Linked DNA regions of Homo sapiens. The protein of the gene in region 1 interacts with the protein of each later gene in a pairwise test. Each region holds a gene or a part of one and is shown in the gene's direction. Other genes may lie near its edges.

Evidence for each region. The genes of interacting proteins can lie anywhere in the genome.
Region 2: the proteins of ELAVL4 (region 1) and MSRB2 interact in binary tests that used the Homo sapiens proteins (3 or more experiments, as listed by UniProt).

The regions. Positions count from the first base shown.
Region 1 is NC_000001.11:50,188,920-50,192,419, forward strand, and holds part of ELAVL4 (ELAV-like protein 4), read left to right. Parts: intron 1-3,500. UniProt on the Homo sapiens protein: RNA-binding protein that is involved in the post-transcriptional regulation of mRNAs. Plays a role in the regulation of mRNA stability, alternative splicing and translation.
Region 2 is NC_000010.11:23,109,079-23,112,578, forward strand, and holds part of MSRB2 (methionine-R-sulfoxide reductase B2, mitochondrial precursor), read left to right. Parts: intron 1-1,163; coding exon 1,164-1,240; intron 1,241-3,500. UniProt on the Homo sapiens protein: Methionine-sulfoxide reductase that specifically reduces methionine (R)-sulfoxide back to methionine.

The DNA.
Region 1 (3,500 bases):
AAGCAGCCCTCTGTATTGCATGCTTCATTTGTTTACTTTCCTTTCCAGACTGGGATTCGTGAAGCAGAGACATTCCCAACACCCATCCCAGGGCCTGGCACATAGTAGATGTTTAGGAAGGGGAGGAATGAATGAACTCCCATCTTCTAATGCCAGTGTTTTTCTAAAGGAGCAATTTTCTGGGGCTAAAAAGGATGCCTTTTCCCTCTCATTTTATCCTCCTCATTGCACCCAACATGCCTTTATCGTGTTTTCCATGTCCTCTCCCTTTTCTGTATTATGGAGGACAGACAAGGAGTGAGGTATTGCTGGATGATTCAGGGAACATTCTTCCTCAGGTCATGCTGTTCTTCCCACCCTGCCCAGGCCAAGCCCTGTGTATGAACAGGTAAAGGGAGTTGTGGGTGCTGCATGGGAAGAGGCAGCCCTCAGCCCTCGTCCTGATGCCCCATCTGTGATGAATGACAACGCCTGCTTTACCCACCTTGGTGAGACTTGCTGAGAGCAGAATTGGGAAGTCACTTTGGAAAGTGGAAAGTACTTTGTCGGCATAAAGCAGTGGGATCTGTGGAAATGTGTTAGAGGACATTCATGTCAGTAAAGTGGTAAAAGATGGTCCAGACCCCACCAGGGTGGCAGAGGAGGGCAGTGCCTCTACAGGCATTCCCTGGTAGTGTTCCACATGTTTTTTTTGTTTGTTTTTTGGGGGTTTTTTTCCGGTGAAATTGGAGGGTATGTCCCAATGGGAGCTAGATTCCCAGGCTGGCCCACAAAAGCCTGTATGACTCATCACATAATAATATGTGTAAGTATCTACTAAGTTCTAGGTATGTGCTAGACAAATATATCAACTCAGTTCTTACAATAACCCATCAAAGGATAATTGACCCCCTTTTTACGAGCAAAGATGTTGAGACTTATCAAGATCAAATTACTTGCCTAAGGTCATGCAGCTAGTGAGTACTGGAGCTGACCCACAGTCAGGGATCATAAGCATGATGCTATAGCATCCTTCTGGTGGAGGATGGGAAGACTGTGAGCACCAGGGATGGGGAGAGCTGAGGAGCTTGGAGGGACTTCAGATCTTCCATAGAGATCATCTGTAAAGTCAGCTGCTTACAGTCACCTGGCTTTGAGCCACCCCTACCCAGAGAGAGGAGTGGCTTCTTCACTCCCAGCCCTTTCTGAGTTCCAGAAGGAGGTCAGTGCTGGCCTAGAGATGCCAGTCTTGTCTTCAGAGATTCTGGATGAATGAAGCAAACAGGATCCTGACTGAGGCAAGGGGGGTTCTCCAGGGCGCTGGCTCCAGTGTTGGAAGCCCTGTGACTCCAGGCCACTGGCCCAGGGGCATTAATATGCCATCAATGCTGACCCTGAAAATTGGCAATTTTTTGGAAATCTTTCAGCCTAACCAAGGGCCTGACCACTGTAGTCATTCAGTTAGAATTTAATACATGTATATGGAAAGTTGAAAATTTTAGGTACTAGGATGAACATTTGGATATTCAATGCAGGAAGATCTTTTTTCTGTCATTTTTGTTTATCCATACGCCACAGGTTTCATGGACAGGAAACTGAGAGAACAATAGACTTAAGGTTCCATATAGGTGAGAAATACTAAACAGGAATTAGACTTGGTAGAGAATGATTGATGTGCTGTTCACCTTTGGGATTTGTTGCTGCCTTTGGGGATTTAGGGTCTGTCTCTGGAGATGTGTTGCAGTAATTCTCCCTAGCTGAGATTCTACCTATGTTGGAATCAACTTTTGGGGAAATGGTTTTTGTTGTGTCACCAACTTTCAAGTGCCAGCTCCTCTTCCCTGGCAGGGTTCACCCTGTTCCCTCTGTACCCTAGCTCTGGCTGTGCAGAACTAATGGGAGTTAAGGTCATGACTATCCATTATGCATTTATTGGGTGCCAGGTACTGTGCTAAGCCCTTGATCTTCATCACCTCATTTGTCCTCGTGACAGAGGAAGGCTATTATCAGGCCACCATTACCTGACTCCACCACCACCTTTCTCACCACCAGTCTCAGCTCAGCTGTGTCTCCTTCCCGGCCCTTTTAACCTTTGATTAATCTCTCCCTCCTCTGTGTTTTAGTCACACTCATATGTATCCCTGGCATAACACACACATCTTGTGGCACTGTGATAATTGGTCTGTATGTTTACTCATCCATTCTTTTGTTCAACACATTTTATTGAGTGCCTCTTATGTGTTGTCTGTTGCCCTCTTTGGACTTGGAGTTCCTTTACAGCAAGAGACTATGCCTTGTTCTTGCTGTGTTGCCAACACATACCACTGTACCTGGCTCATAGTAGATCCTCAGGAAATATTTGCTAAGAGAAGGCCTCTATGTGAGGTCTAGTCCTAGAACAATCTTCTTTCAGTCCTTCCAGCCCCAGGCATTGGAAAATGGGAAATATGTCCCTTAGCTCTTAGCTTGGTGGAGAAACACAGCTGGGATTCTGGGTGCCTGACTCTCAGTGGTCCACCTTACTGGAGTTACAGTTAACTCCAAAGAGCCAATAATATCAACATCATTTCTCATGAGCTGTGGGTGTTTATTCATTTTTTCAGTAGGTGTTGAACACTTTATAGGTATCAGGCTATGTGCTGGGAGCTAGAGTCACAGAGTTGAATAGGACACACACACACACAAGACCTACAACCTAAAGAGATCATCAGCCTAGATGGAGAGGTGGTCAGTTAAGGTTGAAACGGGTTAAGTACCATGGTTCATTGAGAACACTGCTGGGGAGATTTTTAGGAGAAGGTGAGATTAGAGAAAGCTGCCTAGAGAAGATGTCATTTGATCTGAGCCCTGAAGAGGAGTAGGATTTGGACTTGAGGAAGTAGGTATAAAAAAAATGTCTGTATGAGCAAAGGTATAAAGGTGGTAGGTTGTGTTTTGAGGGAGCACAAATGTCATTCGGATAATTAATTTGTCAGTAATTGGCAAGGTGAAACAAGGGTGACCCTCATTGCCATGGGCATATCACTATGATGTTTTTATTTCCTTCTTCCACTTCTTCCTCTTACTCAAAAAATAGTTCTGCTATTGACACACTTTGTCCCTTAAAGAACAGGGGTGGGAGAACCTTCTGTGGAGTGAAGCCCTGTCCAGACAGTCACATGGGGTTCTTAGTCCTTCAGCCCACACTGCAAATGCACACACTGGGACCCCCTATATAAAGGCCCCTCTACATCTCAGCCATGTGCTGAGAAGGAGCCCACAGAGGCCTCCCAGCCCACCCGTGAGTTTCTAGAAGATGGAGATACTGAAGGCAGCTGCCTCACTCCATCAGCAGGAGGAGGCCAGGGAGGCAGATTAGTCACTCACATCATTTTATCTGTTGAGTCAACATCTATTTTTAGGCATGGAACCCATAAAGGGACCTGGCATGTCTGTCATGGAAAGGGGGAGAGTGCCATGGATGAGGGTTCTGCTCATCCTTCATCTTCTTTGCTAGACCCATTCTCTCCCCTGAAGGTCAC
Region 2 (3,500 bases), on another chromosome or scaffold:
TCACTTGGTGAGCTGTTCTGTGCTCTGGCTTTCCTCTGGCCCATAGGAGGGGACAGTGCCTGCCGCCAGGCCCTGTGATAGCGGATCTTCATGGTCAGCTTGTGCAAGGGTTGTTTTTTATTTAATTTTCTTTGACAGGGGAGATGACAAAAGAAATTGGGCAAAAATGGTCTTTAAAAAAAAGTCATCAGCCGGGTGCAGTGGCTCATGCCTGTAGTCCCAGCATTTTGAGAGGCCAAGACATGCAGATCACTTGAGGTCAGGAGTTCGAGACCAGCCTGGCTAACACGGTGAAACCCCGTAAAAGTACAAAAATTAGCCAGGCGTGGTGGCGTGCACCTGTAGTCCCAGCTATTCGGGAGGCTGAGACAGGAGAATCACTTGAACCTGGGAGGCAGAGGTTGCAGTGAGCTGAGATCGTGTCATTGCACTCCAGCCTGGGTGACAGTGAGACTTCATCTCAAAAAAAAAAAAAAAATCAAGTTTGAGAAATAACATTTTAAAAAATATTGACTTGGCTAATTCATTGACTTGTCTCCTTGTTCTCCTCTCAGAATACCTCTGAAAACTTGCAAACCCTGTAACCCACAATGAACGCAGTAATTTCATCTAAGTAGTAACCTGGGCACTGAGGGGGTGGGGAATCTAGCTCATTATTTAACATTTATTAAGTATGCTGTGTCCTAAACATTATGTGAAGCATATTAAAGGCAAAATGCCTGATCTCACTGAACTATGCTTTTTATGTATTTATATTCTGTCTTTAATTGGAGATTTCAAAGTATGTTAGACAGTGGACTAGATTCCTGTTGTATTAACTCTTTTAAAAGGGAGACCGAAATCTCACACAGTCACAGAGGACAAGACTCTGTTTTCTTGCTTTTTCACCGACTTTGATGCTCTTGGATGAAAAGTCCTGTATGAATACAAAGATTATCAAAGTCATAATTTGAATATTGGGTGCAATAAAGCCCAGGCTGTAAATACATCTGCAGGCTGCTTCATTGGGTACATTATAATTTTCTCTCTGGCGTTATTTGCACTTCGTCAAATTAGTACAGAAATTCCTTGATTTGGGGACTTACCCAGGATTTAAATCTGCTGTTTCAACTCCTGCCAGTAGTATGAGAAATCTGAACATGACATATCTAATTTACTTTCAGCCTTTCAGTGGGATCTACCTGAATAACAAGGAAGCAGGAATGTATCATTGCGTGTGCTGCGACAGTCCACTCTTCAGGTAAGATAAAGAATTGAGAGCCACGGAAGGAGACCAAACCTCCAGGTTCTTACTGCTTTGTTTCATTTGAGATCTTGGATAAATAAATACCCATAATACCCATTTTGTTTTTTAAATTGCTCTTCTCATTTTGCATTGTTGCTGTAAGGAGAGCTATTCATATAAGATACTTGCCTGTCTTGACTTTTTTTTCTAGCATTTAGAGCCATTAACAAGACTTCTTAGCTTATATTCTTCCTTTCTCTATCCTCAAGAAATAGCAAGGAAATAAAACTCAGTGGGCCCCTTATGATAAAGCTATTAGAGTTTTTTTTTTTTTAGAGGGAAAGTATTTAAAGAAATCTAAACCGTGATTATATTTGCTGGGCCATGTGATTAAAACTCTCTCCCAGGGAAAATGGGTTTATAATTTAATTTAGGAAATGTAGAATTTTATGAGGATAGATTCCCCACAATGCTTGACAGTAGCGAATACCATACCCTCTTCTATATAGCTAAAAGTAAACTTATTTGTCCCTTGATTTCAAAGCCTCTTTTAAGTCAATCAGGATCTGAAATCTCTCAACAAAGGCTTTTTTGTTTAGACATGCAGGAAACAGTCTTAAAAAAAAGTAGATTCGATGGAGAAGAAAGGAAAACATCTTTGAAGTCCTATTTTTCAGAACTTCAAAGATGTTTTCCTTTCTTTTGCATCAACCCTAAATTGGTTTAGAATAAAATATAAATCAAGCCAGCTCTGTGCATTGCCCATTAGGCAGTGCTTCCTTCTGTCCTCTGGGCTTTGAGCAGTCTGGGCCTTCCTGCCCGGCTGGCTGCTAATGTGGGCTGCCTTAGGAAGCCGGACCCGCCTGCAAGGATGAGGAGCGATTAGCATCGATTTTCCTCCGTGCTCACAGATGGGCAGGCCTTTGCCCGGATGCATTCACGTTGGCATGGGGGAAACTAGAAGGAGGTTAATTTTTGCACAGTAAAATGTGGGACTCAGGTTTCTGAGACAATAGTTATTTCTTGACCTTTGGTTGTGTTAAAGAGGAGAGGTAGGATTTTGAGATGGCCCATGAGCTTTCAGCCATAGAACCATGCTGCCAGCGTGTCAAGGGCTCCCTTGTTACCGCAGGCACCAGGCAGTGCTCTGTCTCCCTCTTTGCACTGTGAATACAGAAGATAAATCATCCTCGCAAGAGCATTCTCTTAAATCACAGTCTTCACTCTTCCCCTTCCTTGATGTTCCGGTTTCTGCATCTGAAAAAGGGGGGGACTTCTTCCCTTCCTTTCACCTTGCAGGCTTAGTTGTGGTGTCAGAATACTGGAGCCAGGAGGGTCCTGAGTCCAGAGCAGAAAGCTCTGTCCAGTAGAACTTCCTGTGGTGATGGAGATGTCTGTATCTGGCCATGTGGTAGCTGCTCATCACATAAGCTTGTTAAGCACTCAAGGTGTGGCTAGCATGGCTGAGAAGCTGACTTTTTCAATTTAATTTTAATTAATTTAAACTTAAATTTAATTTTAATTAATTTAAACTTAAATTTAATTTTAATTAATTTAAACTTAAATTTAATTTTAATTAATTTAAACTTAAATTTAATTTTAATTAATTTAAACTTTAATTTTAATTAATTTAAACTTAAATGTAATTTTAATTAATTTAAACTTAAAAGGCCACATGTGGCCAGAGGCTACTATATTAGCACAATGCTAGTTCAAATTAAGGAAGTTAAGTGACCAACTCCAGGTCCTGGAGGTTGTGAAGCAGCCAAGACTAATAGGAAAACCAGCCGATTCTCCAAAAGCCCATTGACCAAGTGGCCAGTTTATGAGACTGCCAATTCACTAACTTTATTTGTTTTTGTGTAACCATTTAGTTTGAGCTGAAAAGTTTCCATTTTGCATTCTTAAAGACTTCTGAGTTTGTTTCTCTTCCCCTTTCCTGTTGCTGCTACTGCAGCTGAAGGAAATAATATATTCCTGAAGATTATTTATGTTCCAGAATATACTATTCTTAAAGATGCACTCATTTATGGGAGAGGCAGTAGAATGGTTAAGATTGCCAAGGTGTATATCCTGGCTCCATTGCTGTGTGACCTTGAGCAAATTTCTTAACCTTTCTGTGTCTGATTTCCTCACCTGTAAAATGAAGATAATAGTACCTAATTCATAAGGTTGTTGGGAGGATAATCTGAGTCATGAATTAATACATGGAAAAGCATAGAGCAATGCCTGACATGACTGACTCAGGCCAGGCACTTGATGCAAGTTAGTAATG